Regions from separate parts of the Homo sapiens genome. Here region 2 is linked to region 1. The links come from fine-mapping of genetic effects on gene expression. A gene starts in region 1. The other region holds a variant in brackets. All regions are shown on one strand. Distances are from middle to middle.

Evidence for each region.
Region 2: its variant is fine-mapped to the expression of PVR in whole blood (GTEx, PIP above 0.99).

The regions. Positions count from the first base shown.
Region 1 is chr19:44,641,991-44,644,898 of GRCh38, reverse strand. PVR (PVR cell adhesion molecule) reads right to left here and starts at 989. Exons shown (of 8, transcript NM_006505.5): 1 at 724-989. The coding sequence starts at 802. RefSeq lists a silencer at 958-1,037.
Region 2 is chr19:44,616,563-44,619,470 of GRCh38, reverse strand. All of the region lies in intron 1 of IGSF23 (immunoglobulin superfamily member 23), which reads right to left. Among named protein-coding and RNA genes, the nearest start is that of IGSF23, 4.5 kb to the right of the region's middle. The variant T/C (reference allele first, on the strand shown) is at 1,358.

The DNA.
Region 1 (2,908 bases):
TAAAAATACAAAAATATTAGCCAGGCATAGTGGCACATGTCTGTAATCCGAGCTACTCGGGAGGCTGAAGCAGGAGAATCGCTTGAACTCGGGAGGAGGAGGCTGCAGTGAGCCGAGAGCAGGACACTGCACTCCAGCCTGGGTGATGGAGTGAGACTGTCTCAAAAAAAAAAAAAAAAGAATGAAAGAATGAATGAATGGCCAGGCCCCTGGAGTCAGACATTGGGGGTCAGAGGGGTAATGGTGTCAAGTGTCACCCACTGTCCTCCTCCCCAACATCAACCATCCCCTCCGTCCAGACCCAGCCTGCCAGCACGCTGCTGGGTTATGGCCTGGGTATGCTGAGCAGGAACCTGGGTAAGGTAATCCGGCATGCGTCACCATCTGCTGATTTTCCGGGATTCACTTGCCTTTTTGGGAAATTTCCTCACCCAACTCCATCCCCTTTCCGAGGGGCCCAGAGGAGGGTCTTGTGCCCGACCCGTGTTGCTGCCAATTTCGAGGAATTTCTGTACCCAACTCCGACCGCTCTCCGGGTGGCCAAGAGGAGGGTCCTGCCCTCGCACCCTCGCACCGTGTTCCTTCCAACCCCGGGGCAGAGATGGGGGGTGGGTGGCGCCGGGCGGGGCCGTCATCTTCGGGAACCCAAGGGGGCGAGTACCCGGCCTGGATGCGGAGCTGGGAGCCAGACAGGGGCCACCGGACTGCGCGGGGGTCACTCACCGGTTCCTGGGGGTGGCCAGGACAGCACCAGTAGCGCCACCAGCAGCAGCGGCCACGCGGCGGCCATGGCTCGGGCCATGCCAGTTGCTCCGAGCAGCTGGGCCTCCCGCGGGCGTCTCCTCGCTTCCCGGCGCCCGCTCGCTCTGCCGCGGTCGCTGCGAGTCCAGCTCCCGGAGCTCAGGTCCTGGAATCCCCGGGGGGCCGCTCCTCCAGTGCCTGGGGTGGGAAGGGGAATACCCACTTCTTCAAGCTCCAGACAAGTGACTGGAGCGGAGGGGAGTTGGCGGCCAGTCCCGCCAGGCGCGGGGTGGGCCACCCAGGCTGGCCCTCCCCGCGCGCCTGCGCCTGCGCAGGTCTCTCCCGGCGCTCAGTCCCGCTGCAGACGCGCGCTCGCTCCGTCGGTGCCCACTAGAAGAGGCGGCTTCCTGTGTGAGGTCGCCCACATTCCAGGTGAGGAAACGGAGGCACACGGAGAGATTCAGCAACTTACTAACGGCTCGCGGTTGCCGAGTGGCAGAGCTGAGGTTCCAACTCGTGATGGGACAGATCCTGAGCCCACCAGGCTGTCCTTCCACGCAGCCTAAACTTCCCATGGGCTTTGGGGTCAGACAAGACCAGGGCTCATGTTGGGCAAGTGGTTTCTCCTCGAGGGCCCTCAGATTCTTTATCTGAAAAATGGGCATAGTAGGGCGCGGTGGCTCAGGCCTGAATTCCAGCATTTTGGGAGGCTGAGGCAGGAGGACTGTGTGAACCCAGGAGTTAGAGGCTTCAGTGAGCTACCATTGCGCCACTACACTACAGCTTGGGTGGCAGAGCCAGACCTGTCTCAAAAAAAAAAAAAAAAGTTTGGGGGCTGGGGGAGCAAGCGCAGTGGCTGACGCCTGTAATCCCAGCACTTTGGGAGGCCGAGGCAGGAGGATCACCAGAGGTCCAGGAGTTCAAGACCAGCCTGGCCAACATGGCAAAAACCCATCTTTACTAAAAATACAAAAATTAGCCGGCATGGTGGCACATGCCTGTAATCCCAGCTACTGGGGAGGCTAAGACAGGAAAATCACTTGTACCCGGGAGGCAGAGGTTGCAGTGAGCCAAGATCGGGCCTCTGCACTCCAGCCTGGGCGACAGAGTGAGACTCTGTCTCAAAAAGAAAGAAAAAAGGGCATACTAACAGTACTTACCTCACAGCGTGGTCTGTAAAACTTAAACAAGAAACTGCCTAGCTCAATTTCGGGGATATAGTTTGTACTAAATAAAAAGCTGATATACCAACAATAGCAGCAGTGGCAGTGACAATTATTATTATTGTTGCTTTACAGTTGGCATCAAATAATAATGTTCATGAGAATGGTCATTCATTCATTCTTCATTCAGCATATATTTATTGATCCAGCCAGTATCCCAGGCACTGGGTATACAGCAGAAAATAAGACAGACAAAAATCTCTGCCTTTAATGAAGACCGTGTTCTAGTGGAGGGAAACAGACCATAAACAGATTAATACCAGAACTCCATCAGGTCTGGGGAAGATAAGGGTTATGGACCAGCCTGCAGTAGGGAGAGGGGAGGAGGGAGGGGGGAGAGAGAAAGAGAGAGAGAGAAAGAGAGAGAGAGAAAGAGAGAGAGAGAGAGAGAGAAATGAGAGAGAAACAGACACACTCAGAGATAAGGGCTGGGAGACAGAGACAGAGAGATTGAAAGAGATAGAGACACAGCATAGACAGAGGGAGATGAGAGAGAAATGAGAGGTGACAGAGAGACTCAGAGAGCCAAACCCTCAGAGACAGAAACTGAGAGACTTCCTGGTCCCCAGAGGTGGCTGTCCTGGCCAGGGTCTCCATGAGGCCGACTAACAGCTCTGGTCCCTGTGCTCTGACATCTTTATATGTTTTTTATTTTTATTATTATTTTTAGACAGGGTCTCACTATTTCACTGAGGCTGGAGTGAAGTGGCGCCATCATTGCTCATTGCAGCCTCCACCTCCTGGGCTCAACTCCTGCCTCAGCCTCCTGGGTAGTTGGGACCACAGGCATATGTGATCACACCCAGCTAGTTTTTAAATTTGTTGTAGAGATAGGATCTCGCTATGTTGCTCAGGCTGGCCTTGAATTCCTGGCCGCAAGCGATCCTCCCACCTCGGCCTCCCAAAGTGCTAGGATTGCAGGCATGAGCCACTGTGCCTGGCCC
Region 2 (2,908 bases), 25 kb after region 1:
AATTCAGATATGAAAGTTTGAGTCCAGGTGATAAAAATATAGATGAGGTTGAAGGCTGCTACCAGACCTTCTCTACCTTTCCCAAGTGATGATGAATGCGTATCTCATGAATGTCTGTTGCAAGTCTTGGCTGTTATAATGTGGATATTTATCCCTGCCAAAATCTCATGTTGAAATGCGATCCCCAGTGTTGGTGGTGGGGCCTCAGTAAAGGTGTTTGGGCCACAGGGGCGGATCCCTTATGGCTTGACGCTGTCCTCATGGTAGTGAGTTCTCATGAGATCTGATTGTTGTAAAATGTGGCACTTCCTCTCTGACTCTCTCTTTCTCTTGCTCCTGTTCTCACGGGAGACACCTGCTCCTCCTTTGCCTTCGCTATGATTAAAAGCTCCCTGAGGGCTCCTTAGAAGCTGAGCAGATGCTGGCATTACACTTCCACCTGTGGAACCATGAGCCAATCAAACGTCTTCTTCTTTTTTTTTTTTTTTTAAATAAATAACCCAGTCTCAGGTATGTCTTTATAGCAATGGAAGAACAATCTAACACAACGACAAAAAATAGCCACAACACATTGCAACTCCTCTCCTTAAGAGGTGGGGCCTTTTTCCTTCCTGTTGAAGCTGGGCTGGCCATGTGACTTGCTTTGACCAATAGAAGGTGGCAGAAGTGATGGTGGTCAGTTTTGAGCCTGGGCCTGAAGGAGTTTTGCAGCTTTACCTCTTGTTCCTCTTCCATTGCTGAGTGAACAAGCCTGGGATAGCCTGCTGGAGGTTGGGAGGCTATGTGGCCCACTCATCCCCATCACTCCAGCCACCAGCTGGTCCATGGCCAGGCACATGAAGGAGGTCATTCTGGACCAGCCAACACCCAGACACCCCAACAGCTGAACACAACAACTGTCCAGCTAGATAAGTGATTGATGTTTTAAGTTTTGGGGTGGTTTATTGGGGAGCAATGGATAACCAGCATGCAAAGTGTCCTGGTGGGCTCTTCTGAGGTCCAGTGGGTCTGCTTTCTGAGAAGTCAGCCCCTCCCACTGCGGGGCCCCACTCACTCTTGACATGGATCTGCTCCGTCACACTCCTGTGTCCCCTGCTGGTTTCCAGCACGACGGTGTAGCTGCCCGAGTCCTGAGCCGTCATTTTCTAATGACCAGGCTGCCTTGGGTTCCCAGCATCTCCCGGCCAGTGTGAGCAGGTCCTGGGAGGCCCTTCGGGGAGAATATCATGGCTGCTGGCTGGGCGTCATACCCTCAGAACCAAGACGTGGTGAGAATGCCTTCAAGCCTTCCGGGGACAGGAAGATGGACACTGGCTCCTTCGGTCAAGGTGTTCAGCTGTGCCGAGAAGGGCAGCTC[T/C]GAGAAGGCAGAGCAGGTGCAGGATGTGAGCAGGGCGCCTTGGAAGAGCAGGGAAGGAGGAGGAATCATTGATTCCTCTCCTTGACCCCTTGAAGCACGCACGTATATTATACTGGATGTTGCAAAAATTGGTTTTCTACCCTTCTCTGCTCCACTCTGCTGCCTGAAAGGCTGACTTCTCTGAGCTGTGTTGTTGGGGTCCCCTTACCTTTTGCTGCTGGTTGGTTTCTGTCAGTGGGCACGTTGGCAGAAGAGGAGAGGGCAGCGGGGGAGTAAGCTTGAAGGGATTAGTCCTACAGTTGGCTGGGTCCTTCTGTTCCAGCCCACAGCTCCTGTTGAGTGTCTCTCTCCATATACTACTAATGTCTTCTGGTTCTGGGATCTGCTTTGCTCCATTTACTCCTACCCAACCCCTCACCCAACATTTTCTCACCACCTTATTTAGAAATAATAAAGGGTTATAAATCAATGTGAATGGTACATTTTTAAAGGGTGACATAATGTTTGTTCTGGACACTGATTAAGTTATAACCTTGCCACTATTTTTTCTTTTTAAAATTAACAAATACAAATTGTGTATATTTATGGTGTACAATGTGATGTTTTAAAATACATATACATTGTGGAATGGCTAAATTGAGCTAATTAACATATGCATTACCTCATGTACTTATTTTTTTTGTGGTGAGAACACATAAAATCTACTTTCTTAGCCAATAATTTACTCATTTAAAGCGTACAATTCAAGAGCTTTTAGTATACTCACAGAATTGGGCAACCATCACCTCAAGCAATTTAAGGACATTTTCGTCACCCCAAAAAGAATCCCTGCGTCTCTTGGGCACCACACCTAATCCTTTCACTCCTGATAGGCATTTTTTTTTTTTTTTTAATATAAGAGTAGGCCGGTGTGTTGGCTCATACCTGTAATCCTGCACTTTGCGGGGGCGGGGGGAGGGGTGGGGCAAGGCTGGAAGATTACTTGAGCCAGAAGTTCAAGACTAGCCTGGGCAACTGAGTGAGGCCCTGTCTCTACAAAAATAAAAAATTCGCTGGGCATGGTGGCACGCGCCTGTAGTCCCAGCTACTCAGGAGGCTGAGGTGGGAAGATTCCTCAAGTCCAGGAGTTTGAGGTTTCAGTGAGCTATGATCCTGCCACTGCACTGCAGCCTGGGTGACAGAGCAAGACCTTTCTCCCTCTCTCTCTCTCTCTTTTTCTCTCTCTCCCTCTCTCTCTCTACATATATGGTATTACTCATATATACTCATATATATATATTTATTTATTTCCATTTTTATAGCAGAAAACTTAGACTCCTAGAAATAAACACTATGTTTTGGAAACTTTTACTGTTTTTTTTTTTCAAGCTTTATGCTTGTTATTGTTTCTATTTCCTTCTTCTTTTTTTTTTTTTTTTGAGATGGAGTCTCGCTCTGTCGCCAGGCTGGAGTGCAGTGGTGCAATCTCGGCTCACTGCAAGCTCCACCTCCCGGGTTCAAGTGATTCCCCTGCCTCAGCCTCCCGAGTAGTTGGGACTACAGGCGTGCGCC